3 separate regions of the Homo sapiens genome follow, and regions 1 and 3 are each reported to be linked to region 2. The links are microRNA targets in miRTarBase. Many come from high-throughput screens and were not tested one by one. Region 2 holds a microRNA gene; each other region holds the end of a gene's coding sequence.

Region 1 (10,452 bases), not on the chromosome of region 2:
AGAATGGGCGCCGAGGCCGAGGAGGCACTGAGAGCGAGCGCGGGCTGTGAGGGCTGCCAGCACTACCTCCTTTGGGAAGCTGCTCACACTCAGCCATTTAGCTAAGGAAAAATTCTCCATTTTACAGGGGTCTCCTGGGAAGGCCCCACCACTGGCCATCGTGTGTCAAGGAACCCCACAAAGATCAGGGCCCCTCGGGATCTTTCCACAGCTGCTCCACAGGCAGTGCCTTGCAGTGACACCTGCAACCCCCACCCCATCCTGCTTTCTTGGGGGTGGAGGACAGGTCGGGTGATGCCTGGAGACTGGGTTTCTGTGGCTCTTCTAAGATAGTGGGGGAGGAGAGGACACCAGGGTGGGTCTGCACCATCAGATTTGTTGTCCACAGTGGGAAGTGCCTGACTTTACACATCCCAGCATAATAGGAATGGAGCAGCCTGAACAGGAACTGAGAGCCAAAAGCCTCAGGCAGGTGTGTAAGCTTGAGTGTTCCTGGCAGGGAGTCATGTCTGATCAGCACAGTGTCTGAGCCCTGGATAGCGTCAGCCTGAGGTCACCCTCCAAGACCCCTTGGTCCCCTAGTCTGGCATGGCTGGTACAGGTAAGGTGGGGGTGGGCAGGTGGTGATGGCAGCTGTGCTCGCCCCTCTGGTAGGGGTTCGGGGCAGGCCAATGGAGGAGTCAGGTTGCATCAGAATTCCAGCTAGCTCCCGTGTAACATGTTACAGGAAGGTGCAGCTCCAGCATCCCACCCCTCTGCCCTGTGGGAGAAAGAAAAGGGCACTGCAAATGCATTGCAGGAGGGACGTTTAACCCGCTTGCAAGATCCAATTATCTTCAAGGGCTTAGCATATCTATGTTACTTACCAATGTGCTAATTGTGTGCTGTTCTTATCTATTCATAAGAGTGGGTCCCTATCATGATGGTCTACTGGATAACTGTTGCTGAGCTATCATAAAGCTATTCTCCCAGTATCAGACTAGACAGGATACCCTGGCTTCCTCCCCCACAGTTAAAGAGGATGGAGTGGCTCTGAGTGGGGCTCTGGGGACTCAAAAGTCCCTTGCAGAAGGTGCTCTTATCTTTTCCATTTTGCACCAATGTGCACCTCTACTTTAACAAGGGCTCTCTCCACCATCTCCTATATGGTTCCCCCAGCCACCTTTGTGAAGTTCCACCAGTATCTCATGTCCTTCATTCCCACTTCTAGGTGACCCAGCTCTATTCCATTTCAAGTGAAATTCCATGTGAAATCCTCCCTCCTTCCAGAAGCCTTTTCCTTTTTTTTTTTTTTTTTTTTAAATGGAGTTTTGCTCTGTCGCCAGGCTGGAGTGCAGTGGTGCAATCTCAGCTCACTGCAACCTCCACCTCCTGGGTTCAAGTGATTTTCCTGCCTCTGCCTCCTGAGTAGCTGGGACTACAGGCTCCCGCCACAATACCCGGCTAATTTTTTGTATTTTTAGTAGAGACAGGGTTTCACCATGTTGGCCAGGATGGTCTCCATCTCTTGACCTCATGATCCACCCGCCTCAGCCTCCCAAAGTGGTGGGATTACAGGCGTGAGCCACTGTACCCGGCCCCCAGAAGCCTTTTCTAGATACTCCAGCCCCACCCATTGTCAGGTAAGCCTAGACCAGAAAGGGCAGTGATATTTACTGGGCTTAGGGCAGGCTAGTCTTGGCTCTGCCAGAGAAATGGAAAGGGGGAAGGATGCTTTGGACTTGGAGCTGTTTTTCTGCTAGTCACCCAGTCAGTGCCCCAGACCCACCAGAAACTAGGGGGTGGTTCTGAAAGTCTGGCCTAAAGCGGAGTTGAAGTCAGGGCCCAAACCCTGGTGAGCACTATGTAAAGTGCCTAACAATCACATAGTATGCTATACATTGTAGCACTTATATATAGTGTAAATAATAATGGCAATGTCAGTCCCCAGAGCAGCCAATTTCTGGCTGTGTAACTTAGAATGAATTCCTTATTTGTTCATCAGTTGCCTCCCCTGACCTGTAAAATAAAAATTGTGGTTAATTCATTTACTCAACAAATAATTATTGAGCAACATATTCTGTTCTAGGTACAACTAAATCTGTCATTTAGTATTTGTTAAAAGATGTAGCACGGTACCTGACATATATATACTAGGTTGTCAATAAACATCAGTTTTCTTACACAAGTCTCAGCTGTGGAATGGGAGATGGGTGGGTGTGGGAAGCGCCGGAACAGAGAAACAGAAAGTCAGGAGTGGACAGGGTGGAGGGCTGGTCTTGTTGCCTCTGGAATTCCCAGCCCCACTACACCCACTTTCCCTTCTTGTTGACAAGTCCTCATTAAGGACAGGGGATGGTGCTGGGGTCTCTGAATAGTTTACCCTCCTTTCTGTCCCTTGATCCCATTAGACCACTTCTGTGGATGACATCATCTGTCCCTCATCTATAAAATACAGACAGTGATGCCTCCTCATTCTTAGACACCAAAGACATGGCAATGTGCCCACCCTATTAATGGAGTGTCAGGTTGGGGACCCCCACCCTTCCCAGGACATCTCCCAGAGTGGTCTCCTCACCAAGCTGACTTGCCTCCCACTTCTGGTTCCTTACCCTGGCATCCCAGGCTAGACCCAGCAGCAGCTATGGCTCCCTTAGTGCTGAAACCCCACACCCTTCAGTTTTGACTTTCCCCAGCCCCAAGGCACACCAGACCAGACCCTCACAGAGGAGTTGTGTATACCTATGTGTGCAAGCACCATGACACCTGGTACACAGGAGGTCTGCAATAAAAGCTGATTGAATGAATGCATAGTGGATACCCTTCTGCAAATGGGGCTCGTTTATTCATTCAACAAACATTTATTGAACCCATAATCCATTTGGTGCCAGTCTCCGAGTCAGGGGTGGTGACATTCAGGTTAACAGTAACTAAGTTCTCCAAAGACTGAGGCATGTTCACATGTTTCCTCACCCCAACACTCCCCTCACCCCGAAGACCCGCCTGGCTCTCAGACGACCCAGCCCCGACCCTCACCTCCAGTGACCAGGCCACCCACTCCAGGCATTTTAACTGCAGTGGATGTTTGCAGTAGATGATGCTAAGTCACTGTGTTTGTGGTTGAATCCTGGTTCCATAGCCCATCCTGTGTTTCCTTAGGCAAGTTACTTCACTTCCCAGAGCCTCAGTTTCCTCATCTGGAAGCTACTTAGACATAAGTAAGATTGCTTATCTCATACGTGCTGTGAGGAGTAAATGAGATAAGACATACACTTAGAACAATGCCCAGTGCCTAGCACGTGCCCAGTGGACATGAGTTATTCATCATGCTATGACTTCTCTCCATCACCAGGTTCCAGCTCCCTTCTGCCCCTCCACAGCACCACTCAGCACAAGCCTGTGCACACAGTAGGTGGTCAGTGGAATAGGACTTCCCGGAAGCAGAGAGATCTGATGGAACATCCTGGGTAAAGAAACTCAAAAACTGGCAAAGGTTTGGAGGCAGGGAAGAGCAGCAAAGGGCTGTACCTGGAAGGTCTGGAGGAAGGACCCAAGGGATGGCTGTGTCTACCCCAAGGACAGGGAGCTCACTACCCAGAAGCAGCCCATGCCATGACTCAGCAGTGTTGAAAGTCAGAATTCTCTCTATCCCTAGCTGGCCACATTTTGTGTTTCAAGTCTGAAGAAGCCACTGGGGCCAGGTGCGGTGGCTCACGCCTGTAATCCCATCACTTTGGGAGGCCAAGGCAGGTGGATCATCGGAGGTCAGGAGTTCAAAGATGAGGCTGGCCAACATAGTGAAACTCCATCTCTAAGAAAATACAAAAATTAACCCGGGCATGATGGTGGGTGCCTGTAATCCCAGCTACTTGGGAGGCTGAGGCAGGAGAATCGCTTGAACCCAGGAGGCAGAGGTTGCAGTGAGCTGAGATCACGCCATTGCTCTCCAGCCTGGGAGATGGAGCAAGACTCCATCTCAAAAAAACAAAACAAAAAAAAATTGGCCAGGCGTAGTGGCCCACGCCTGTAATCCCAGTGCTTTGCGAGGCCAAGGTGGGCAGATCACAAAGTCAAGAGATCAAGACCATCCTGGCCATGTGGTGAAACCCCATCTCTACTAAAAATACAAAACTTAGTAGCTGGGGTGGTGGCGGGTGCCTGTAGTCCAAGCTACTCAGGTGGCTGAGACAGGAGAATTGTTTGAACCTGGGAGGTGGAAGTTGCAGTGAGCTGAAATCGCACCATTGCACTCCAGCCTGGATGATAGAGGGAGACTCCATCTAAAAAAAAACAAAACAAAACAAAAACAAGAAAAAGGAAGCCACAGGGATCCCACTCCACTGTCAGGAGGTCCAGACTGGGTGTAGCAAAATTGTGAAGTCAGCCAAGTACTACCTATATCCCACTTCCCCCTCCTCCAGGATATACTCCCACCACTGCCCTATTTGGGGGCAAATGGCCAGGCAGGGGAGCAGGGGGCGACTGATGGACATTAGCCACTACTACAGAGTCACATAGAGCCAGTGTGGGGTGCAGGATCCCATGGCTGTGTCAGAGACCCCTAGCTCTGGCCCTCAGTTTCTTCCTCTGTGAAATGCGAACTATTCCATAGGTTTCTTTTCCCTGACTGTTGAAAAGATGAGAAACTGTGAGCCTGAAAGTGCTCTTGCCATGACAGATGAAATGCAAGCCTCAGAGGGAGAACTGTTATGTCCATTCTTAGCACCAGGTAGGCCCATTCCTGGTCGGGGACTGCCCCCTTCTCACTCTCAGGGTGGGGCGGAATGCAGCTGGCCCCTCTCCCCAGAGGAGCCCCTGGCACTCATCCTGTGAACCAGAGCCCTATCGCTGATCAGCACCAAATGGCTGAGGATTTCCTGGGGCTGATAGAGGGGCTCAGACCCTTGGTTCTCAGACGTGAGCTGGGAAGAGCTGGCCATGGCCTGCGCCATCCCTGGATTTCCACACTGGTGGCTGCACCCTGGCTAACTCTTTAGGGCTCCAATCTCACCATGAGCTTGAGGAATAAGCTCTACATTGCAGAGCCTCCTAGGTCTGCTCAGTCTTATCCAGATCATATCCCCTGCAGCTGCTCCAGACCGGCCTGTACAATCTCACTGTATGTCCACAGCCGGGGCTGGATAGCACCTCTTCAGGCAGGAGCAGTGGGTGCTGCCAGGCCTGCTGCTCAGGCCCCCTCCGGACAGACGCTGGGGGGCTGTAAACCTGCCTTAATTGAAATATGCAACAGGGAGGCCCCCAAGGAGCGATGTCTTTGCTGTGCTGCCAGTCCCACCTCCCTGCTCTGAGCGAGGGGCTGTGAATCAAGCTGCAGTCAACTTCTGACCTCGAGCTACTGCGAGGGACCAAGCAATGGAGTGTTTGTGACCCAGGGGTGGCTCCCAGTTGGATGGAGGTGTCTTCTTTGGCCATCCCACTCAAAGCCCCTGTGCCCTGGAAATCACTGGACATCTGGGTTGAGGCCACACTGACCACAAGGCATGTCCAGTGCCTTCAGTTTGTCAAGTGCTTTCACAGTCACCATCTCGTCGGAGCTCCACAGCAGCTGGTGAGGTAGGTGAAGACTACCAGACCCATTATACAGAGGAGGTAGATAGGCTCAGAGAGGCAAACGGACTTGCCAAGGTCACACAGCTGCTAGCTAGCAGAGCCAGGCACAGCCTGGAAATCACTAATTCTTGGGGGCAGAGTAGCACAGGCTTTGTGGCTTTGGGGCAGGTACTGAACTACTTTGAACCTCAGTCATCTCATTTGAAAAATGGGGATAGGTGGGGGCACAGTGGCTCACGCCTGTAATCCCGGGACTTTGGGAGGCTGAGGCTGACGAATCACTTGAGGTCAGGAGTTCAGACCAGCCTGCCCAACATGGTGAAACCCCGTCTCTACTAAAAATACAAAAATTAGCTAGGCGTGGTGACGCATGCCTGTAGTCCCAGTTGCTCTGGAGGCTGAAGTGGGAGAATTGCTTGAACCTGGCAGGTGGAGGTTGCAGTGAGCCAAGATCGCCCCACTGCACTCCAGCCTGGGTGACAGAGCGAGACTCCATCTCAAAAATAAAAAAAATAAAAATAAAAAAAGAAAGAAAGAAAAAGAAAAATGGGGTAATAATACTTCCTGTCTCATCAGGTTATTGTGGTGATTAAATGAGATGCTGCTATAAAAAGTATTCGGCATAGAAGTAGCATAGAGACCTGCTCAATAAATGTGAGCAATATAATTGTCATTATTATCCCAAGGATATTCAGCTGCTGTCCCTGTGCTGGCCATGCCCCAGATGAAGCCCTGGTACCTCTAGGCTGTAACCTCATCTTTGTTCAGGACCTGCTGAGATGGGCTCAGGGGCTGGGTGTGGAGACATCGGGACGGAGTGGGGACCACTGGGCTCCTTTCCAAGGCTGCCCACCTGGTGAAGGTGGCCAGGAGCCTGTCTACGGCCCTAATTTTTAGCCCCATGGAAGTGGCTGCCTACTTCCTCGCACAGATCTCAGGTCTGCTTAGGGCCACGCCAGGACTGGCTGAGGCTTTGCCCTGAGGTTTTGGTCTTGGTCTCAGAATCAGGCTGAGAATGGGAGCTGAAAGGATTGGGGGTGGTCCAGACCCTCCAATCAAACCCCTGCCCAGCCCAGGCGATCCTTCAGGCTCTGTGGATGCCCAGCATCCCAGCACGGAGGCCTGCGCCATGGGAGCAGCTTGCCATTCCCCTATGTCCCAGGCAACCCTAAGATGGAAGGGGGTGAGGCAGGACTGTGTATAGCCGAGTAAGTCTGCCTTGGAGTAGAAGGATGGTGGGTGCAAGTGACGCAGGGCCTGGCCAGACTGATGCCACCCCCAGGCCCTGAGTCCTGCAGTCTCCAGACCACCCCGACTGTGAACCCTGGCCTAAAGGGACACCACTCCCTTTAGAGCCCGCCTCCTGCAGGGGAGTCCCCTCTAGGACATGGCCCTGGCCATCAGCCAGACTCCACCACAGAGTTCAGGGGCTAGCAAAAGGAGGATCAGACCTCCCATCAGTTTTACATACTTTCAGATACCCCCTTCAGGAGCCCCGCAATGAGAACGGAGGAAGGGCAGTCCTGCCCACACCTCCTGGGACCTAGGAGGCCAATGGGCATCTTCATGTCTAAGAGGAGCTCTGTGAAAGCTTTGGGGCCTGTGGGGCCAGATCCTTAGCATTTTTAAATTTTATTATGACTTCATTTGTTTAAATATATATATATATATATATATATATATATTTATTTATAGCTCTATGTGCCCACCGCCCCCGGCCCCCTCCCCGGCCCCTAGTTTTTCCCCCTGGCTTTCTGTCTAGTGGCTGTGTAGGGCAGAACCGTCTGCGTGCTCTTGTCTGACACTGTCTGGGTGCTGCTGTTCCTCGTGACCCTTCGAGTCTGTTCAGGGGCCAAGGTAGAGCCTGAGTGGCGGCTGGTCAGTGGAGAGCGCCGTGACTTGTAGGGGGCTGGGGAGGGCTTGTGGGGGCCTGCATGGGCCTCTGTATGGGCAGGCTCAGGGGGCAAGCCCACTTCTTCCTCCTCCACCTCCTGCTCACCGTCCCCCTCCTCATCGTCACAGCACAGAGCATGGTAGAGCACTTTGTCACTGAACCGCACCCTCTCCCGTGTCCCTGGGGTCCGCTGGGGCAGCTGGCTCTTCACCGTGGGGCCAGCACCAAAGGCCTCCTCACTGGAGGAGTCTGGGGTCTCCACTCGTGGCCCATTGGGGATGGGCGTGCCACCATTCATGAGGCGGTAGTCAGGGCCAGCCCCTGGCCGAGTCGACTCGGGACCATCCACGGAGTCCGAGGGGGTAGAGACGTCCAGGAAGGAGCAGAACTCCCAGCTGTCTGAGAGGATATCGGCTGTCATGAAGTCCAGGTGGCCCAGGTCAAAGGGGCCACCCATGCCCGCCTTGTCACTGCTAGAGGTGCTGCTCACAGTGGCCGTGGTCCAGTCGTCCGGCTCCAGTTCAAAGTCGAAGTCCGAGGTTAGCTTATCGATCTGGCTCACCACCTGACCAGGGAAGGGGAGAGGAGATGAGAGGGGCCAGGTGGGTCCCTGCATCAGCCAGGTGTGAGTGTGTCTCCACCCCATCCCTGTAGACCCCTGGCTGATGAGCGTACTGGACAGGGGAGAGCCTGTAGGATGGTGACTGGCCTGGAGGTCACAGGTTGGTTTGCCCTGTGGAGGGCCCAAATCAGATCAGGCTGGACAGAGCTTGTTCCGGCCCTTCCCAAAGGTCTGTTTACCACTGTTCAGTGCCCTGGGGGAGAGGGAACTGCTTTCCAGCCCTGCACACCATCCATTCACTCACCCCTGTCTCTCAAACACAGCAGCTGCTCTGGGGGCAGCCCTGGTGATCAGGGATGAATCTTCCTTAGTTTGAGAGGGGGCCACTTCAGAGGGGCTGAGGGCCTCCAGCAAGCCCATTCCACAAAGAGCTGAGCAGCCCATGCACCCTCAGAGAGGAAATGATGTGGGTGATCACAAGGAAGACCCTGTGTGGGCTTTCTAAAGCATCCTGGACCAGTCCTTGCAGCTGACTGGTGACTGTCGCCCCTGGGTCTCCACCATCCCTCACGGCAAGAACACCAGGTGTACAGCACTGGCTGGGTCACCCCACCCCCATCTCCATCTCCCGGAGCCTCCTCATTCCTTCCCCTTCCCTGCCCACTGACAAGTGGAGATCAATCCTGGCTTGTTGAGAGAAGGAATAAAGCAAGCATTATTTGATAAGCAATAAAGAAGCCATCTATTCTGGGCCCAGAGCTGCTTGTTCAATGCACTCAGGGGGCAGCTCAGCTGTGGAGGTCACTCCACCCTGGCCTGCCTCGCATAAAGTGAAGCCCTTGGCTTCTATACAGAAGGCCCTGGCTTGGGACACTCCCTTGCCTGGGTGGCCACTGTCAGCACATAAATCAGGGAGGAAGACAGTGAGGGAAAGAGGGAGATCCAGTCAGAGACACAGGGATGGGACAGGGCAAGAGAAGGGAGAGAGAAGATTCCAACCAAAAACAAAACAGAAAAACAATGAAAACAAAGCAGCGAGGCCAAGAGTCAGAGTAACAGAGACCAAGAGATCCACAGTGAGTCATCCAGATCAGAATCCAGCCCCCAGCACCTCTCTGGCGCCCTTCAACCTGGGGTCAGAGCAGGCAATTAATTAATTAACTCATTAAGTCCTTAATTCAACAAACAGTTGCTAAGGGCTGCTGCTGTCCAGGGATGTGCTAGTATTTGGCAAGGAGTGGGGGTAGTGAGTGCCCCAAAGTGAGAGGAAAGCAAGGACAAAAGTGATGGCCAGAGTGGCTTGGGCCAGTGGGAAGACTACTTGATCAGGAGTCAGGGGCTGGATGCAGGAGACCTGGTCAACCATTTTTCCTCTGTAGGTCTCAGTTGCCCAGTCTGTAAGCGAAGAGGGTGGGTGAACTAGTTTATTTCCAAGGTTCCTTCCATGTCTGAGATTCTAGGACTCTGTTTATAGGAATGACTCTGAGAGGCTGCTTGGGTGCTGATGCCTAGGGATGGCCCCTCAACCATTGCCCAGGCCAGGAGTGGGGAAACCACTTGGCTGAGGCCTCCAGAAGAGCTGGAGGAATCAGGACATCTGGATTCCAGACTTAGCTTTGACATTGTTCTGTGTGTCTTTTGGAAGATCACAGAACCTCTCTGGACCTCAACCTCATTCACCTCCAAGTGGGTATGACAATCCCAGACCACCAAGTGAGTATGACAATCCCAGCCAACCTTATGAGAGCTTCATGAAGGACAGTGAGAAGGGCAGCAAAAGGACTCTGCAAAGCACTGGGGATGAAAATGACACCACCTCCCATCTCTGAGCACCTACCATGCACCATGCTTTCGAGTGCTCACCTCCACCCATGAGATCATTATCTCCTGTGTCTACAGATGAGGAGTCTTGGGCACTAGTCCCTGGAAAGCTGAGAATCTCCCCCTGCGGCCCCCTGCAAAACTGCACACCATCATGAAGTGCTGCTGTGACTGCTGGGCTTGGGCAGGCGGCAGGGATAGGGCCCTACCCTCCAATCTGGCTACTTCTTCTTGTGCTTCTCCCAGGATGATGCCTTCCTGCCCCAAAGGAACCTCAGAGAAACTCCTATCTCCCAGAAGCCCTTGCTCAACCCAAGCTCCACCCAAGGGCTGGTGGGAGCACTGGCCTAGCGTAGGGACACTCAGACTTGAGTGTCCCTCAGCTCACTCCCCAGAGTTTCTGGTTCTGCTGGTCTGGGGTGGTGCTGGAGAAGGTGCCTACCTAGTGTGCCTCCAGGTGCTGTTGCTGCTGGTCCAGAGACCTGCTTTGAAAACCACTAGCCTAGGGCACTGGGAGATTTAAGCTGGGTGAAGACCAGCAATTCAAGGCATTGATGGCCTCAGGAGAGGCCCACCACCTCTGGGGCAGCTATGCCCTCAAATGAGACTCCCCTGATCAAGCCAG
Region 2 (10,452 bases):
GTGAAAACATGCAGCCAAAACATTCTGCTGCACAGCAAAGACCTTCAGATATTTTTCAGTCCTTTTTTACTCCTAAGGTGTGGGCTGAAGGAAGCAGAATGGGAGGGAAAATTCACAAAGAACACGAATTAATACTTCAGAATATAACATGGCCTCATAATTAAACACTGTGATAAGTGTTACAGAGGGGAAAGAAGAAAACAAGGAGCCATGTAATGGAACAAGAGAAGCTACTTTTAAAATATATATATATACATATTTATTTATTTATTTTTTGAGACAGGGTCTCATTCTGTGGCCCAGGCTGGAGTGCAGTGGCGTGATCTTGGCTCACTGCAAACTCTGCCTCCCAGACTAAGCAATCCTCCCACCTCAGCCTCCTGAGTGGCTGGGACCACAGGCACATGCCACCATGCCGGCTAGTTTTTGTATTTTTGATAGAAACAGGCTTTCACTATGTTGCCCAAACTGGTCTCAAACTCCTGAGCTCGAGCAATCCACCAGCCTTGGCCTTCCAAAGTGCTGGGATTACAGATGTTGAGCCACCATGCCAGGAGCTAGTTTTAATAGTGTTAGAAATGGCCTCTTTGAAGGGTGACATTTAAACTGAGATTAAGGAGAAGAGTCTGTTATCATAAGAAAGAGCTTGTGTGAAGGTCTTGAGATAAGGAAGTCCATGATTTGCCATGTAGGAGCAGCTGAAAGAACAAAGTGACTAAAGTATACATAGTGGGATAAGATGAGGCTGAAGAACTGATTGGGAGCCAACCAATGGAGTTTTAAGGTTGATACCCAAAAGTTTTCATTTTACTCTAAGTGCATTAGGAATCTGAAATCAATTCTGAAATCTGATGATATGCCAAGAGTCTCTAATACATCCTGAGGCTGTTCATTATGAAATGAAATGTATTCTACTTTTTTTTTCTGTTAGCTTATTATTATTTTTTGTATTGAAATTTTCTTTCTATATCCTTAAATCACTTGACTAGGATATTGCATATGATAACAACTTAAGAGCAATTTTCCCTTTTTTTCTGTCATCATATTTAATGAAAATTACAAACTTTTACTTTATTGTGAATTGATATTTTCAACATTTCAAAAGGGACTCATTCAAATTCAAGTTCTTATGGTTTCTCAGGAGTTAAGGTTATTCTAACCATAATACGTTTATTTACTCTTTGAGACTCTATTTTGTCATACGTAAAGCAAAAATAGCAATATCTTTCTCACAGGTTTAATCCAAAGATTAAATAAGAGAAAGTATGTAAGAGTGTCTGGCATTACGCTGGATACCTTTTAAATACCCAGTAACTATAAATTTTTTCTTTTAAATCAGATAATAGTCTTTTCTTTCTTATAATTTTATCTCCCTATAGAGTTAGACTCTCCGCCCAGTTTAAGTCATCTCCTCTGCTTTTTGTTTATCTTCAAGAGACAATAAAAGTCCCCCATTAAATACTCTAATTTCAGAGGAAATTGGATCCTTGTCATTGGTGGGTTGATTATGGGCAAGTCATTGGAATTTTTGGTGTCTTTATATCTGCAGGACTGATGTAACAACACCTGTCCTGTCTACCTTTCCTAATAGTAATTAGGATAAAAAAGAGAAATGATAAATACAGCATTAAAAGATAAGACTTATGCTTCCACAATTACACAGCATTGTTGCTGTATATTATTATTAAACAGCCTTTCACCAAACTTCCAGATGCATCTCTCCATGTTTCCTATTGCAACATTTTTCCTTAATTTACAAAAACAGAATATGTAAACCAAGTAATGGTCCTTCTTCTGTTCTAGCTGAGAAATGTGTGGTTTATCTCAAATGAATAGAATATTTGTCTTGAAATCCTGTGCTGGTCCAAAAAAGCATCATTTATATTTTGTGGAACTCACCAAGCCCAATTACCAGTGATTGCTTTAAACATTAGTGAAAAGCCAATGATTCGATTTAATCCTAACTTGGGAGGAACATTCTTCTAACTTATTTATGCTGGTCTACAGACTGTTGGCACTAGCCTAAAGCAAGGTTGGAATGTTAATATGCCACAGCTACATGAGTATACCTAGTGAAATGCAAGCCAAGTGTAAGTCTAAGGGTTTATATAATTTTCCATAATGGATTTATATCTTGTTCTGTTTTTAATTATATTCTCAAAAACAGAAGACACTGATACATATGGCAATCAGATGACATGTCACAAGCCACATGTGATTGCTCACAGGTTCATGTGAGATAACCAAACTTTAACTCAAATGTTGGTTGCTGAGTCTCAGATATGGGAAATGAGTATCAGCAATTGTGGTATTAGAACTACATCTTTCTAAGTTCAGCCAGGAGGTATGGGCTGTTTCAATAAATTTGCAAATGAATCACATTTGATCATAGGCCTTTCCTACTTGGGTTTCTTTCTCTTCTCTCATAGATACAAAATCATTAGTTGCTAATTTTATCACAGCCAACCTTACTCTGAATTGTAAATTATTGACCTTGCCCTTCAGTGACACCAAATCACTTCTCAAGAGAAGTCATGTTTTCTATTTACAGAGGTGCCTATTATCACCAACTGTGTAAATATATAGCATATCTTAAGCTTTAAGAATATAAATTTGAATAAGAACCAAAGCATAAGACTTTAGATCCTGAAGTCAAAATCTGTATATGTAGTATACAAGATTTGATCTAGCATCAGCCTGAACCTATCTTATCACCCAGCACTACCATTTCAACATAGATTTTTCATTCTGAACTAATCACTATATATGTGGTAGTCCTTACATACTTAAAAATCGAGTAAAATGTGACATCAGAAGAGTTGAGGATTCTGGGCAGTCTCTGAGCTTCTACCTCTGAAAGTCAAGGGAACATGACATTGTACTAGATTTGGTTTTGCAAAAGGCTATCCAGGAAGTAGGAGTGGTTAAATTTGACTATTTTAGGGTCCAGAAGGAGATTAGATAAGTGAGCAGAGATAATCAAGAGGGAAAGATGGCAATCTAGAGGAGAAATGCCCTATTACAATTCTAGCCGGTTATTGCCATTTGGTACTGTGGACAGTGTAGCGAAAATTCAGAATTTAAAAACAAGCAAACAACACCTTCTGCCTTTGTAGAGGAAATGGTATATATAATAAGAAGCATTTTAAAGGATTAATAGTAGTTATCTATGGAATGTTAGAATGAATAGGTTGATGGAGGGCATTCTAGACAGAGGGACAACATCTACAGAAACATATAAGAAACAACATGTTTGTAGCTAAAGAGTAGGGTTGAAGGGATGGGCTTGAGCCACATCATGGAAGACACCATAAGCCATCACAAGGAGCCCGGACTTAACATTTGAAAGTGGTAGGAAATTGCCAAAATGACATGAATTTTTATAGGTTATTCTGGCAATTGCCAACATGTGGGCATAGGGTGTGTGAAGGCATGGAGGAAAAGCCGGAGGTGGAAGATCAACCAGGACACTCTTAGAAGTTCTGGAGGGACATGGTGGAGGTCTTAACTGGAAGAGGGGCAATTTGGAGAGAAAGGAAAAGATTTGAAAATGACTTTGGATGTAACGGGACTATAAACAAGAACTGGTGATTGACTGGATATGCAAGGTGAAGAATAGGGAGTTACCAAGAACTCTTGGGTTTCTGACAAGGATCTTGCCTCTTGTTGACACAGCAGAAAAGATGGTTCAGGTGAGAGTGAGCAGCTGAGTACTTGGAGGTTGTGTTGTCTATGGCTCAGCCATATGAACATAAACAAGGGCATAGGTTTTAATTTAGTTTTGCCTTTTCCAAGATGTAAATTTAATTAACTGAGCTCTATCAAACTGACAGCATTTCGAAGTAGAACACTTAAAAATTATATTATGTAAACTTTTCACTCAATTACATTTGTCAACCAGGATTTCTCACCCTTGAAATTGCTGATATTTTGAATGGGATAATTCTTTCTGGGGGAGGCCATTCTGTGCATTGTAGAATGTTTATCCTGGCCAGTAACACCCTCCCCATCCAGTCACCACAACAAAAAATGTCCCCAGACCTTTTGAACTGTCCCCTAACAAGCAAAATCATCCTTGGTTGAGAATCACTATCTTAAACTAAATTAGTTCATTTTCATGAAAACAGTTCCAAACCATATAGTAGCTACAATATTAAAATCTGAAAAATGCACACATTGTACACTATGCCATAAATATGAATAGAATGGACTTCTACCAAATCATAGCATCAACATGTTTGTAGCTAAAGAGTAGAGTTGAAGGGATGGCCTGGAGCCATGTCACGGAAGCTACCATAAGCCATCATAAGGAGCCTAGACTTCCCATTTGAAGGTGGCCATTTCCTACCACCTTCAAATGGTAAGTCCAGGCTCCTTCTGATTCAATAAATGAGGAGCATTCTGGAAAAGAGATTTCATCCAAGGCTTGATCTCAATTGAATGTTCTGTGTGGAGGAGCACCAGAGTTGATCCCAATTACCATGGATGACAAAGGCAAAGCAATTGACAGCTTGCCATTATTAAATTTGGTATTGAATCTGTCTCTACAGGCAAACGTTATTGTAAGAATATCACTTTAAAATCTTCAGTCAGACTGCTAATAAGATTTATTAACCATGGTACCATGTCTGGCACTGGGAAAGGAACAGTTTAAAGAAAACGTAGATCATACCCTAAGGGAGCTTACTTTGATCTAATTATCCTAGAAACACCAAGTTAAGTTTTTCATAAGTAGAAATGGATGCACTACTCCTAATTGCCTTAGCTTTAGCTTTGAGTGATTTGTAGAAATATTGTGCCAATATGTCATGAACAGAAATATGCCAAAGCCTCACCACTCTTCTTTTTTGCCTAAATCTAGAAGGCACAATATCTATTTGACCACTCAGTAAAGTCTGTAACCAAAACCTGCAGGGTACCTGAATGCTGTCTGTCTCTCAGTTTTACAATGGATCTGAAATGAGACTGGCCACCAGGCTAGACAGTGCACAGCCACTCATCCTGAAATTCCCCTTATTTTTGTGGCCATGATCTGTTTACATTTTGAAAATCTAAATTACATGATAATTATTATTTTGCTATGCACTCTTAGGCAATGTAAGAGCAACTTTAAATATCATTGCCCATGTTATAGCAATTTAGACACAGCTAATTACCACAGGAACCTAGGGCACACACCATTTCACATGAGTCGTGTTTTATTAGATGAAATTGGCAGGAGGGATAATGCAAAGTTGTATGATGTTGGTTATCACACCACACATCATGTTATGGGACAGGATTTGTAATTGCTTCAAATATATTTTCCTTCAGTTGTATTGGATATAATTTTGCATATATTGGCAGTGTTTCACAAAGAAGCCCAATCACTTTCAGTCTGCTTGGTCTCTAATAAATTTGTTTACTCTTCTAGAAAAGGATTAATAATTATGTGCAACTTTTAGTATGTCTATTTTGTAAATAAAACAAATCAAATATATTCATTAAAATTCCCCTGATGCATTATCAATTATTTATAGGAATGTGAGACCTTGGGTCAGACTTTTAACTTTAGCTGTCTTTGTTTTGTTACTCTGCCTAGATCCAAGCACATTCATCTGCTTTCAGTAATATATTAACTGCTCAGTGACTCCACCAAAGCCTTAGTTTGAGAGATGTTAGATAGGGCAATAAATCGACAAAATATACATGAACTTGTATCTAAAGCACCTGTGTAGCCAAACAAGGCTATATAACATTGCTTGGCCAGTTTCAATAGTCATTCACTCAGTCACTCAATAAGCATTTATTAGGCATCTACATTGTACAATTTGAAGCAGTCAGGATTCTTTAATGAAAAAAAAGAGACAAAAAAGTCCTTACCTTTGTGGAGTTCACATTCTAGTATGGCAGATAAGCAATAAACAAAATAAATAAGGAAATCCATATAGTGTTAGAGATGGCAAGTGCTAAGAAAATTAATCAGTACAGCGTAAGGAGGCTAGGGGATGCTATGGCAGGGAGAGTGTGGTGCCGGTCAGAGTAGCCTCAGTTAAGGGGTGATATTCAAGGTGGAGGTCAAAGGAGATAAGGGAGTGAGCCACACCTAGGGAAGAACATTCAGATCATTCTCCTGTGACCATCAGAGGAAAGTGTCAACACCAAGTCTTTAAGGTTTGAAGGGCACTGGCATTCGAGAGAAGCAACGAAAAACCAGTGAAACTGGAGTGGATTGGAGTAGAGGGGAGAAGGAAATGAGTTCAGTGTTAGTAATTCACTTTCATTTTCAATTTTTAGTTTTTTTCTAATTAAAAAAAATCAACTTTTAAAAAATATATCTTCTACTCAATTATATGTGCCATTGTGTTAAAATGGCAATTTTTAAATCCCCAGACATTAAGTTTAGAAATAAAGCAAGCACCCCCAAATGTAGTAACAACATTGGTAACAAAAGTAATGGAAAATACTTCCTTCCAGGGCTTCTAAGCCAAGCGTCTGCAGAGCACTCTAAATGCACTGGGCCCTTTAGTTCTCAGTAAATCCCTATAGGGCACAAATTCAATGTCATTGGTGGAGTTTGGTGAATAATTTGCTAACTTATCTGAACCTTAGTTTTCTCATTGCTAAAAGATGATAATATAAGAAGCTACTTAGTTTTTCTATTTTAGTGTTTAAATGGCATAACACAGTTCCTGAACATGTAGTAAGTACTAAATAAATGTTAGTGCTTATAATCATTGCTAGTTTATAATCAAGGCAGCAAGCCATTGATTTAAGCAAGCAGGTGAACGGAGGCAGTGAGGAAGGTGAAAGAGACATCACAAGGAAGGGCCCAGAGACAAGAAAAAATTGCATGTTCTCCTGTTTGGACCTTCATGGATTAGCAAATGAGGGTGAAAATATACACAGGGGCCAGATCACAAAGGGTGAGGTACACTAGGCTGAAAGACTTCAGCCTGTATCTGCAATACAGGCACATGTAATTATTTTAAGCACGAGAGTGCATTTTGGAATGATTACTATGATTGCAATGTGAAGAGTGGTTTAGAAGTGGCCAGAATTAAAGGCAGGGCCACCAGATGTGGATGTAAGTTAATATTTAGTGAGAGAAACACAGATCTCATTAGTATCTATCTCATTATGATCTATTATGTAGAGAATATTGATGTTTCTTTGTTATGACACATTATTATTTGGGGAAGGGGGATAAGATCAACAGTAATTGTACCAAAGAAGAAAGACAAAGCCAACTCATTTCATTTTCAGAAAAATTCCTAGGTCAACTGATTACTCTCTGTGGAATCTCACATCTATCAAGATTGAGATCACTGCAAGTTTGTTTGTTTGTTTTTAATCTCAGGAGCCATTAGATGAAAAGCAAAATTTTAAACATGAAGTATTTCATAATCCTTCCTTATGATTTTTCCATTGAACATTATTCCTTGAAAACATGGATTTATAGCCTATATATTGAACCATGAATGATCTGCCATGCCGTATAAGTGATATGCTGGCCCCGACAAATAAACAACTGAGAGGAAATATAGGAAAGGAAAACTTGGGTTTCAGCAAATTAACGATGTCGGGAGAAAAACCATTCAGTCATGATAGTTCAAACAGAATATCATTGGCATTACATTGTGACTGAGGTTTTGAAGCTCCCACAGACTATACTTCTACATCTGTAAATTTTGAGGTAACTTTGCTAAAATCCCTTCATTTCACCTGAGTTACCCAGGCAATTATAGAATTATAGTTGTAGGGATTTTTGCTTTTGTTTTGGGGGACTTATTTTGCCCAAACTACTTGAAAGCTCTGCCTGAAAGTACTATTTAAACAAAATTATGCTTTGTCCCACCTTCTTTGGTTTGTTCTAGAATGACCTTTCCTCTCATGATCCTTATGGGATGATACTGGGCTATTGTATTTAAAAATATACAATAAATATGTAAATGCATTCTTAGCAAATTTTTAAATAATTCAGTGTGGAAAGACTAAAATCAGATTTTTTAAAGAGTCCCTTTAACTGTTTTCCTCAATCCGTTCCAGCCCCTCTCTCTCTCCACGTGTAGAAACACCATTGTAGTGAGCATGCATCTGAACGTTTCTCTTTGTATTCAAGCACACACATACACCACACACACACACACCCCACATTTATTTACTTATTTATTTATTTTTAAATACAAACATATGAGACAATGCAGGGCTGTGATTAAGAGGTCAGCCTCCAGACAATGATTTGTTACCCATTAACGGTGTGGCCATGGAAACTTACTTAACCTTTCTGTGTCTCAGTTTCCTCATATATGAAATTGGGATGATAACATTACATAACTTGCAGTGTTGTTATGAGAAGTCACTATTTTGCTACATTTAAAGCCCTTGAAACAGTACCTGATAGTAAATACTCAATGAATATAAGCTACTATTATTATTATTATATGTAATTTTCTTAAATGCACTGCTATTTTTACATATACGTATTATCTATGACTTGCTTTCTTGGTTAATAATGTCTTGGAGATTTTGCCTCATCTGTACATAGACCTTTTTAAATCTTCTATATAATATTCTATATATGGTGCATTTAACTATTCCCCTGTTGATGGACATTTAGTTTGTTAACCAAATGGTTTTTTGTTTAATTTTGTTTCACTATTTTGAGTACTGCTTGAATGAAAATCTTTATGTATATGAGTAACTATTTTTCTCAGGTAGATCCTAATATATGCAAGCCAGGATAGGAAGATATGGATATACTTTATTTTAATAGATATTGCCAAATTGACTCAAAAAGCCTATATCAATTTATACTTCTATGTTTTATGAAGATATAAATTTCACCAAATCCTTGGGGATACATTCTTTTTTTAAGCATGTGAATGATTTTGATCTCATTTTAGATTTAATCTGCATCTCCCTAACTGATAGTAGAGTTGAGCATCTCGTAGCTGAGAACTTTATGTGAAGAAGCTAGTCATACAAAATTCTGGCAGGAATGAACTAGGTATAAGCAAGAACAAAAAAAACGTCCAGAATGATTTGAATATGAATGATGGGGAGAGTATTAGACATAAGGTTATAGAGGCCAGCTGGGAGTGAAGAGTGAAGGTCCTTGTAAACCATCATAAAGTGTTTGCTATTTATTTTGAGCAAGAAAGTGACATAATAGAGAATAAGTACTGTTTGGGATGGGCTTTGAATGATGGGTGGGGGGTTATTAAAACAGAGTGGAGGAAGGACATTCTACACTGAGGGAATAAAACTGAGAGATTATAGAAACATGAAAACACATGCTGAAATCAAAAGCATAGTGTTGCTTCTATGTTGAAGATTAATATTAGGAAATATAATTGGACCTGCCTGTACATGGGAAGTGCTTTGCATGATACAGGATGTTTTCATTTTCATTTCTAGAAAATTGAAAAATATGTATGGGGTAATGCATTTATTGGGTACATTCTGTGAGCCAGGTTTAGTACTTGGCACTTTACACGGGTAGTCCATATAAACCTAAATGACTTCTGTGAAGGAAATGTTTTGTTTGTTTGTTTGTTTGTTTGTGACAGAGTCTCACTCTGTCACCCAGGGTGGAGTGCAGTGGCAGGATCTCAGCTCACTGCAAGCTCCGCCTCCCGGGTTCACGCCATTCTCCTGCCTCAGCCTCCCGAGTAGCTGGGACTACAGGCACCCACCACCACGCCCAGCTAATTTTTTGTATTTTTAGTAGAGATGGGGTTTCACCGTGTTAGCCAGGATGGTCTCAATCTCCTGACCTCGTGATCTGCTCACCTTGGCCTCTCAAAGTGCTGGGATTACAGACCTGAGCCACTGTGCCAGCCCTGAAGGAGATGTTATTAATGCCATTTTGCATATATGGGAACTGAGAGGCTCAGGGAAATGAAATAACCTTCTTACAGCAGTAATCTTTGACCTAAGCTTTAAAGTCAGCCCTCTTCAGATTAGCTAAACAAACACTGGATGAGTACTGTGCACTGTGCTAGGTATCAGGGATAAACCATCAATGTAGCAAGGTCCCTGCCCTCAAGGACAGTGCCTATCATAGTTGTGTTCTTTCTACTCATCAATAGATTTTAAGCAAGGGCATGCAAAAACCAAGCAACTCAGCCAGGGGTGGTGGCTCACGCCTGTAATCCCAGCACTTTGGGAGACTGAGACAGTAGGATCACTTGAGGTCAGGAGCTCGAGACCAACCTGGCCAACACGGTGAAATCCCATCTCTACTAAAAATACAAAAATTAGCCAGGCATGGTGGCACATGCCTATAGTCCCAGCTACTCGGGAGGCGGAGGCAGGAGAATAGCTTGAACTCAGGAGGGGAAAGTTGCAGTGAGCCAAGACCATGCCACCGCACTCTAGGCTGAGCCACAGAGAAAGACTCCATCTAAAAAAAAAGGAGTAAAGTAACTCTGGCTGGAATAGGTAGAAGCATTTAGACAAGAGAGGAAA
Region 3 (10,452 bases), not on the chromosome of region 2:
GCCTTTACAGGTACAGTTCCTTTGCTGGGCTAGCAATATTACCTGTCACTCAAGATACCTTAACTGGGCTCAGTTTTAATTACTCACTTTTCATTCAACAAGATTTATTGAAAGTCTGGTGGGGGAAATAGACATGCAAACAATTTCAGTACTCTGTGAGCACTGAGTTAAAGAGGGTGTATACAAGGTCCCATAGAGAGAATATTCTGCCTTATGGAGTTCAGGAAAACTTCAGAGGTTATGATTCTTTCACTTCTTGAAAGAAATAAAATAAATTAATCCATTCTTTCATTGTATATTTGTTTTAAATTTCAGTATTGATGGTTGTCTCTGTAATTCCAAAATTCTAGTGGGGGCATTATATTATAGGACCACAATAAATATTTGTTGAATTAATTAATCTGAGCCACTGTATGGGTCTGATAGGACACCTAACTCAGTGGAATTATGGTTATGCAGGTGGCCTCACCTGAAAAATAAGTCTAAAAGTGTGATTTTTCTTGTCCCCAGAGGAGTGATCTTTCCTGAGTAAAGTTAAAGCATGTTGATAAAAGTGTGGATAATTGTACAGGTGTATCCCGACTTTGGAAAATGAGTGTAACTTCTATAAACAATTTAGCCAAAGAAATAGGCTCAGTTCCCCCATCTCATGATAATCACTCCCTTTTATTTGATAAGTCACGTCAGCTTTGTCTGGAGTAGCTTCAGAGGACACATAAAAATAAAGGGGAAAGATTTAAAAATAAGGGTCATTTGAGTAATTCCCCTTTCAGAAAATTTGTTGAACTGTTAATTAATCTCACTTTGTAAGCTAACATAAAATCTTTGTGAAATTTTAACCAAATCTGGTTCTTTACTGATAACCATATGCATGCTAGTCCATGCATGATCCTATTTATTAATTTATCAAGATAATAAACTCACATCATTACTCTGCTCAGTCAAGAACCAGATATTGTGGTGGGAGATGCATATGGAGGATTTTAATACCTTAAAGCAAGAAGACTAAACAGGAGAAAGGATGATTTTAATATCTGCTGCTTGAGTAGCAATATTTTCATTACTTTGTGTACTCATCCTCATTTTCACAGAAGCCACATAAAATTTTTGATGTGGCGCTTTTTTTCTGGTATGTTAGGATTAATAAATTTTTTTCTGGGCTGGGCATGGTGGCTTATGCCTGTAATCCAAGCACTTTGGGAGGCCGAGGTGGGTGGATCACGAGGTCAGGAGTTCAAGACCAGCCTGGCCAAGATGGTGAAACCCCGTCTCTACTAAAAATATAAAAATTAGCTGGGCATGGTGGCGGGTGCCTGTAATCCCAGCTACTATGGAAGGCTGAGGCAGAGAATTGCTTGAACCCAGCAGGAGGAGGTTGCAGTGAGCCAAGGTCACGCCACTGCACTCCGGCCTAGGCGACAGAGTGAGACTCCGTCTCAAAATTATAATAACAATAATAAATAAATAAATAAAATGTTTCTGGTATGTTAGGATTAATAAAAACTGGCAGGTATGCTGTAGTTATTCTTAGAAGTCATTATACTAAGTTTCTTTTTCTTTCATTGTAGAATCACAGAAATGAACATTTTTATTTGGGTGTTCAGCCAAAAAGTGATGGGTACTAATTTGGGGGAGAATCCATTTAAATTTTTTTTTATTTGTACAACCAATATGGCATTTATGGAAATTGCTGCTGGTGATGTTCTACTCATGGTTATTTACAGTTGGTTACACAAGTGCTTGTTTACATTCACTTCTTTATGTGGATGTTCTGTCTTATCTAACTTTTGGTGCACATTTTGAAATACCAAATATATATCAGGACTCTTAATTACAGGACATTCTTTCCCAGCTCTGCCTCCAAGGATAAGAACCCCTTATTTACCTCCTGTTAGACAAAGTGTCTTCTGGCTCTTGGATTCTGTGGTCTTAGCAAGCGGCCTGAGTTTCAGTTATTCCATAGTGCTTGCCCAGCGACTTGCCACATGGCTTGGGGGGCTCAGTAAATATTTGCTGATGTAAACTGTTTACCAAGTACTAACAGACATTTTGGTAGTAATGTTCCTTTTTCCACAAGACACGTCTGCTTATAGTGTTTGTGTTTTTCATGCGGCTCTGGCAGTTGCACATAGGAAAGGAGATGAAAGGTAAGACATTCTATCCTTATTCCTCTATTACTTGGTCCCTGAAATGGGCACTTCCGGATGATCTCCCCATGTTTCCTGTCTTACTTGAAAGCATATATAAAAAGTTGGATTTATTTGCTATCACTGATCATGGGGCATCTCCTGTTTTTTACCTCCAGGGGACCAATGAGAATAGGGAAAATTCTCCTGCTGGTAGAGCCCAGCCTGTCCCATGTGAGACTCACTCTGACCCATCTAGAAACCAGCCATCCCCTGACGCAGCAGCATCTCAGACGCAGACCAGCCCCGCTCACCCCAGTGTGGACCCGTGCACAGAGGAGAGTGAAGAGCAGCAGGCTCAGCTGGCCGCGGGAGGACACTGAGGGCATCCTGCTCATCTCACACCCTGCATGGAATCAGGCTCCTCAGCCAGGACACAGGGTGAGGCCCCCCAGCCAGGATATGCCTCCCCTGGAGGAGCACAGCACTGCATATGCTTCTAAATATCTAAACTCATTAACATGGAAACACACACACAGGAGCTACAGTACATATTGGCAGGAAAAGGTAAACTTTCGTAATCTCATTGGAATTACAACAGGGAAATGGAGTTCAATGAGGACTTTCAGTTCTTTGCTTGGTTAGGTTAAGGATGATAGAATTTCTCTGCCAGTGCAGTAAGAGTTGAAACCGGCAGTTACACTAAGTAAGTGGAGGGAATGAAAGTGTTTCGAGGTGAATGTGGATATAATTTCCCTCTTCTGATTATTTATTCTTATTTGGTTCCTAACACAAACTGGGAAGAGATAGAATTCATCTATACTTTCTTTTTTCTTGGAGAGAACCGTTTAAAAAATTACAAGATATATTTAAAAAGTAACCAGATAAAAGTAGCACATGTGCTTTTGTTAAAAATAAAGTTAAAAGTTAAAGTTAAAAAATGAAGTTAAAAGTTTCATCAGAAACTTTACATATCTTTAGCAAATATATTTTTATATGTGTATGGCATATAATGGAAATAATTCTTTGAGCAACAGAAGCTATTATTAACTACTGCAAGCTAAGCCGAGCTTAAAAATGCCTTTTGTTTTAAATGGGCTTTGAGAAAAAAAACAGAAACAAGCGATTATTTCAAATCAACCAACCAACTCAGTATCCTGTGTTTTGATAGACAAGAGTTTACTAAATATATTGATACTGTAAATAGCCTCTCTCGCTATTTACTATCTTATAGTAATTCAGGCTCTAATTAGCTGAGGGAATGAAACACACAAAAATCACTGAATTCCTAAGAGTTCCTTAAATAAGCAGTACTAGTTACAAATCACAGTATAAGATTTAAGTGCCTGGGGGAAGGATACAATTTTTAGAAATTACATATTGGGTCAGTTTTGTTTTGTTTTTGGTGAGGAAAAGGTGGTAAATAGGAAACCATGAATGGGAAGGATGGCAATAAGTAGCAACTATACTTTCCAATGACTAAAGAAAGAAAATCTCAGTATATTCGTTCTCATGAAGACACAGTCAGACACTGGACAATGTAATGTATGCAACTGCAAACGTTACAACTGCAGCCAGAACAATGGCTGGGTGGATCGCACGTAAAGCTTGCCACTAAAAATCAAAGCAGAGGTTAACAGGAAACCTGGGGGGAGTGTGGAAAAGGGAAAACTGTTTTAGCTGAATAAAGGTGAATTATATAATTTATAATAGCTGTGGATGAGCACAGGAGAGAGAGGAAAGAAAAGAACAGTCGAAATGAGCAACTCACCTTACCCTCTGACCCTGATTAGACAGGATCAATTGTAAAGTGAGGGCTTCTCCATGACACCATAGTTCTGCCCAATACTGCATTTGGGATAAGAAATTCTACACTTGGATGTCTCGCTTCACAATAAAACACAGCTTAAAAATAAAATAACTGAAAGAAATAGAATTCAGCAAATAGTTATTTTTTGCACTTGAACTGAAACGTACTGTACTGTAAATTATGACTCATTTTAAGTGACCTTTAAAATCAGATGTATTTATTATGCTTGTGTAATTATAGAAATAAAGAAATGGGTGACAGGCTTAACCTCACCTATGAATGTACAGTATGTGGATTTGTGAAACTGACTGTAGGAAGTCAAAAACTTGTACTGTATCTTGTGTTTACAGTTCTGATTTATTCCTTTGAAAAGCCTGCTGTTTTGGAAATGCACAGTTGACATGTTGAAATAAAAATGAATACCATTTTTAAATGTTTCTTAAATGATAAAGATGTGACCAAACAAAAGTCCTATACTCTAATGAATGAGACCAAATTCAACATGCCTTTGTTATGGAACATTTACTGTGACAGCAGAATCGATAATGCAGTCATTTCCAGCCTTGTGAGCTGACACCTTCATGGGTTTGTGGACTTTGTGACTTTTTCTTCCTGTCCCCAAAGTGCCATATGCTACCTTAAAAAATATTAAAGTGAATTCAAATTACATTTTGATTTGAGATTTTGTAACCCCTCTTGAGATCCCTCAACACACACAGGGGTGTCACAGAGCCCAGGCTGGTAATCACTGCCTTAATGACTTACTTCCTACTCTTTCTCCTATGGTTGTAGAAACAGTAAATTACCGAGTGCTGAGCTTGTGTGGATCCAAAGTGGTTAACTGCTAATTATTGAACTATTCCTCAAGTTTTAGGAATAGATTATAATACATACATTGTCCAGCAGGCAGTAAACCTCATGAAAAGTGTTAAGGAATTCACAGGAAGAGCAACCCTGCTTTACTGGCTTATTAATCCTGCCATGGGTCACATGAAGTGGATAGCTGGCTAATAGCTTCCCTCTAATTGGCAATTCCTTCCAGTACTGCTGAGGTACTGAGACCATTACTTAGGCAATATTCCTCTCTGCCAATTTGGAGTTCAGCAGGGAATCTAGGAAAAGGGAACCACATCCGTGGATATTGGGTGCTTGTAGTGTGCTGATGAGATTATCATTTTGCCCTTAACAAAAACTGGAGGTGTTCCTATCACTATCCCCATTTTAAACAAGAGAATTCTGAAGCTAACAGTTTAAGTTATGAGATCAAGGTCACAAAGCCAGGATTCAAACTCAAATCTTCCTAATGTCAAAGCCCTGGTCCGCTTAGCACCTTACCCCACCCCAGGAGGCAGGGAGGCCATTCCCTGCATCTGTTATGGCAGAGGAAGCCATAAAGCAGCCCAGCCTGAACCATTACCATACATGCCTGATATGTGTATGTGTGTGGTTGTATTTCCATTTAGGATTTCTAGATATTCCTAGATTCCTAGAAATGCTTCAAATTCCTGATGCTTTGTGAAATGTAGGTACACCAGACCCTTTACACTCTGCAGGTGAGTTGGCTGGACTGATAACTGCACAGGAAACCCAGAGGTTGGTAGGGACTCTGGCCAGGGCCATGGAAATCAGGAAGGGAAAGCAGACACACCCACAGCTCTGTACTGTCCGGTAGGACTTACTGGGAAGATGGGAAGTTCTCTATTTACACTGTCCAGGATGGTAACCATAAGCCATATGTGGCTATTAAACAACTGACATGTGGCTAATTTTCTGGGGAATTAGGTTTCTAATTAATTTTAAATAGCCACACGTGGCTCAAGGCTACCATACTGGACAGCACGGGTATACAGGAAGAGATCCTTTCGGGAGATCTCTGGGCCTGTTTCCTCAGCTTCAGTGTGAGAGGTTAGAGCTTAAGGTTATGTTGATTCTATGAAAATGAAGGTATGCTTTGACAGTGACTGTAGGGAAGAAAGAGGTGATTTTCCATTTGGAAGTTCTTCAGCCCTTTGGAGCATGGAGACAAGACAAAGGCTACTTCTGAAGCCCCAAACCACTCCTGGGCTTGTTTAGCAAAGCCTTGAGAATATCTGGCTTAAGAATTCCAAACCATGGGGCAGTTGGGAGAGAGGCTGGTGCCTAGGTGGGGACAGAAAAGGGGTGAAAGGGGGAGTGGTTTGTCAGATCTCAGAAAGTAATTTACACTATGCCAGGACAAACTGTGGCTTCTTATAAGGGAGTAACTGGAAACTTGCTGATGTCTAACATGGGGGGAAAGTGAGCCAGTCCGGCTAAGTGCCAGTCCAGCTGTGTACCTAACTCTCAACCAGCTGCCATCTGCTTCAAGCAGCTAATATAGGACCACTTGTCCCCCACTGTGGCTCCAGGAAAGTCCCAGTTTTTAGATGGCAACCCAAGGACCTTACAATGTTGGGGTTAGGAGTGTGCGCCCTGGAGTCACACTGTTTGCATTTGAGTCCCAGCTCTGCCAGTGAGAACTTACACACACATAGAACATCTCTGGGCCTCAGGACCCACCTCTGTAAAACGGAAGTGATTACAGTAGGTATGTAACAGGTTGATGTTTAAAATGAGTTATCTGACATACAGTGTGTGCTCCATAAATACTGCCATTGTTGTGCAGCAAAGAGCCCGGGGCAGGAGGAGCGCTGTCTCATTTCCCCAACCAGGGTCTAGTTCTATTATTTTATTGCCATTTAAATCTATAATCATATTCCATTCTCCCAATCTACAGTGCCATACTATACATATTTACCTATATCTAGTAAGCTGTACAGTAAGGCATTCAATTCCAACATGCATTGTAAACATTAAGTGGTTGGGGATATGAGTTAGTTAAGAGACAAAATTAAGCAAAACTTAAGTTGAAGAGGATGGAAAAAAGTGATGATGGTGACAATTCCATAAAGTGCAAAAGTCTGCTGAGAGAGGTTATAAGTTTCATAATTTTCATTTTTCTTTTTCTTCTTAAAGGTGTCAACAAAAGTAAACAATTTTATAATCATTTAACAAATTATATACCATACTCTCTCCAATAGTCAGTGTAGGATGCTATTCTTTTAAATTGTAAACTTACATTTGAAAAAAGGTCGGATTTTTTTTGTTTCCTGAAAAGATCACTGGCATCTTAGAAAAATAACATGTAGACCAGTGCTACTCAAAGTGTGCTCAATGACTGGTGCTGTCAAACTACTGCTGGTATGTGACAACATAGAAATTAGACATTTCAAAATATGTATGGCAAGTTGACATTGTCATGACATGATCATCGTGCTTATATTCTGTATGTCTTTTCTTTCAAAGATTATTTCATTTTTCTAATAATTTAGTGTATCTTACAAAAGTATTACTAGTGATGAACTAGAGGGAAACTGGTCCATCACCCCAGACAGTCTGAGAAGCACTGACAAGAGCCGCAGACTACAGTGTCCATTGCTGCGGGGCACAAATGACTGGTATGTGTATAACATCAGCAGATGTAGTCACCTCTTGAATGCCTTATCCATGGGGTCATTTCCTTCACTTTCTTAAAAAGATGGTAATAAATAAAGGAAGTAGAATATGAGCCCTGGAAGCAGACATATGGGGGCTTGAATTCTGATTCTACCACTTTAGCTATATGTGTCCTTCAGCAACTTTCTCCTACCTTCTCTGGGTCTTTCCTCATCTGTAAAATGAAAATACCAAAACATATCACAGAGTGGTCATGAGGTGCAAATTAAGAGGTATCGAAGGTGCCTCATATAGTGCCTGATGGATCTCTAGTCAATGTTGGTATTCTTTCCCTTTCTCTTTTCAATCAGTCTTTCTTTTTTGGAAAAACGACCAAATCTAAAAAAACAGATGCCTCAAATTATTTAAATAATAGAGAAGCTACCCACTAACTGTATCTTCCAAGATTTATATTAGATAAGTATAGTATTCATTTCAAATCTCTGGTGACCTATTAAGGTTTCACATTCAGGGATCATAACAAAAAAAATACAGTTACCTTTAAAAGATAATCCAACTCCTAGGCCAGAGAAAGACTAAAGATTTTAACACATCTGAGTAAAAATATGCCCATCAGAGGGGGTGGGATGTTTGTCAATAATGAAGATTAGAAAAACAGCAGTCACAGAGAGGAAAAAGTTGGCAGGACCTGCATAAAGGAAGGCGTGGTCTTTGTCAACAGACCTGGTATCTCATCCCATTAACAAGGCTAGCCCCACTGGGGTGGGGGGTGGCATCTGCATCAAACTCTTTGGCCTCATGACATTAACCATGTGAATTATATAACAAGCTCCCTTTGTTTTGTTTCAGTTCACCAAGTAGCCACCTTATTATAATTTGACCCCTTGTAAATCTGTCTTCTGAGAGAGAATCTGCTGGTCATATCAAGTCAAGTGTTTTTATCCTTATGCTAGTTATATTTTTGGTTGTGAATCACTACCTGTACCAACTATATGAATTGACTAACAAGAGACAGGTCTTATGGTGCAATAACAAAAAGCAGGGTTCTAAGTCAATAAGGCTAACAGTCACACCCAAATAGTTCACTCTTCAATGTCATGCCACCCAGCAGGCTCTCTCAGAAGGCAGCTTGCTCCTGTTGTCACCTAAAAGTACCTCTCTGTCTTCCTGCAGGTGTCTTCAAACTTCCACATCCATTATGTTGTCTATCTTGCTTTCAGTTGGACAAGAAAAGCTAATTTATAAAATTGTACATCTCTCACTCTGGGAAACAATCACACATAGCATAATGTAAGAGAGCATTTCTTTAGTTGACATCATTTCAGGATCTTAATTCCTCCACATATTTAGATATTTTTATGTAATCCATCATCTATTCCAAACCCTCTTAAAATCTAAATATATGAAATTTCCAGATTTTTTTAAAAAGTCATAAATTGAAATATTGTCCTTCATGTCAGATGGACATTCCCCTGTAATTCAGCCCTAGGTATTACTGGCAAACCATACAACTAATTCACAAAGCATTTTTTGTGATATGTAAAATGTGTTTTAAAACCTTTTAAAAATAACACTTGAATGATACGATTGTTTAAGCATAGCCACCTACACTATATCTCACCCACACATCTGGTGTCAAAGAGTTCAACTTGCTAACAACAGTAAGCTTTTGTAGGCACCAAGCATAAGCAGTAAAATAACAAAGGGATCTGTTAGGCTCCATAATTATACACCTATGGTGTGTGAGGCACAAAGCCAACTTCCAACCACCTGTGAAGGGCAGAGCCATTTTATTGAGTGGTCGTTTAAACTGTTCAAAGGCCTTTAAAAAGGGAGGAGGAGAGGAGACAGGAGGTGAGGGAGAAAGAGAAGGGAAGGGAGGAAAGAAAGGAGGGAAACATTTCTTGGAAGAGTTATCTGTACATTGCTTGATGGGGATTAGAATTGTGATCAGTACTATAATACACCCCCAAATCAAATGAAAACAACATAAATACACTAAAAATATCACAAGTAATGCTTCTAATTGTTTAGCTTCTCACAGTAGTCACAAAGCAGAAACTGACAAACCTATGATTTCCTCTAAAAATAAACATGGAAAACAATATCCTCAAGGACTGCTGTTGTTCTTCTCTCTTTGGCTGTTTTTACTGTGATGGTTACACCTGGCTAGCTGCCCATGAAGAGCTGCTTCCTTCCCTCAGCAGTACCTCTTCCCCCTGGCCCAGCGGCTGTCCTGGCTGGGATGTACCTGGCAGCCCCAGCAGATTGTTCATGTGTTATTTACTCATACGCATACGTTGTAGCACACAAACTGCTTCTTAGGAGACGAACTTGGTGAGCACAGGCACTGATACATCTGATACATTTATATCACCAATAAATATAATTTAAAAAAACAGATTAAACCATAAGAAAAATATTCAAACTTCTATTTACTCATAAAATAGTTACCATAAATCTGAATGGAAAATATATCCTTTGGTTTTTTAAAAATCCAAGTCTATATAAAGGCAGATTAACTTTAGTGGATATTACAAAAAAAAAAGTTCCCAGTATGAAAAGATGTCTGGCAAAAACAGACCTGTAAATACTTCAAAGAGGAACTATCATTTGAAAATCAATCTAGGAAGTTCCAGATGGATAGTCATGCTCTTTTTTCATGATTTAGAAAAACTACTTAATTTGGCTCAGGAAAGCAGCAGTGCCAAAATTCTGTCTATCCTTCGCCCATAACCTTTGTCCTGATAAAAAGATTATTTTTATGATCCCATCACAGGAAAAAAAGCCTGATTTTGATTCTCAGAATCAACTTAGCAACATCTTAACCCTGAGATTGTCTTGCCATGTTCAAATCTTTCCTCAGATCTATGTTTTGGCCTTCTTTCCTCAGGGTCAAAGCTCATAGCCCCTCATTTCAATCTGGAGTTTAATATCATGAATCAAGAAAAAAAATCATTTTATAAGAAATTGTTACAAACACCTATAGCTAAACAATTTTTTAAATGGATCAGTCAATTCAAAATATCACAAGAGCTTAAG

The links. The annotated mature microRNA hsa-miR-617 reads AGACUUCCCAUUUGAAGGUGGC and lies in region 2 at 4,317-4,338, shown strand. An mRNA with a match to its seed (bases 2 to 7 or 8) in the 3' UTR can be bound and repressed. Matches are read on the target gene's strand: a 7mer-m8 pairs with bases 2 to 8, a 7mer-A1 pairs with bases 2 to 7 and ends in A, and an 8mer does both.
Region 1: the mRNA of INSYN1 is a reported target of hsa-miR-617. Seed matches in the 3' UTR shown: 7mer-A1 at 7,189-7,195, 7mer-m8 at 3,408-3,414 and 7mer-A1 at 3,312-3,318.
Region 3: miRTarBase lists MFSD6 as a target of hsa-miR-617. Seed matches in the 3' UTR shown: 8mer at 4,250-4,257.

Annotation. Positions count from the first base shown.
Region 1 is chr15:73,732,634-73,743,085 of GRCh38, forward strand. INSYN1 (inhibitory synaptic factor 1) reads right to left here. Exons shown (of 3, transcript NM_001039614.3): 3 at 2,825-8,009. The coding sequence ends at 7,284. Among named protein-coding and RNA genes, the nearest start is that of INSYN1, 15 kb to the right of the region's middle.
Region 2 is chr12:80,826,479-80,836,930 of GRCh38, reverse strand. It overlaps MIR617 (microRNA 617), which reads left to right and starts at 4,302; the gene lies at 4,302-4,398. The region is part of intron 4 of LIN7A (lin-7 cell polarity scaffold A); the gene reads left to right.
Region 3 is chr2:190,497,710-190,508,161 of GRCh38, forward strand. MFSD6 (major facilitator superfamily domain containing 6) reads left to right here. Exons shown (of 8, transcript NM_017694.4): 7 at 1-10; 8 at 2,306-4,605. The coding sequence ends at 2,509. It overlaps NEMP2 (nuclear envelope integral membrane protein 2), which reads right to left. Exons shown (of 9, transcript NM_001142645.2): 9 at 6,629-10,452. Among named protein-coding and RNA genes, the nearest start is that of NEMP2, 32 kb to the right of the region's middle.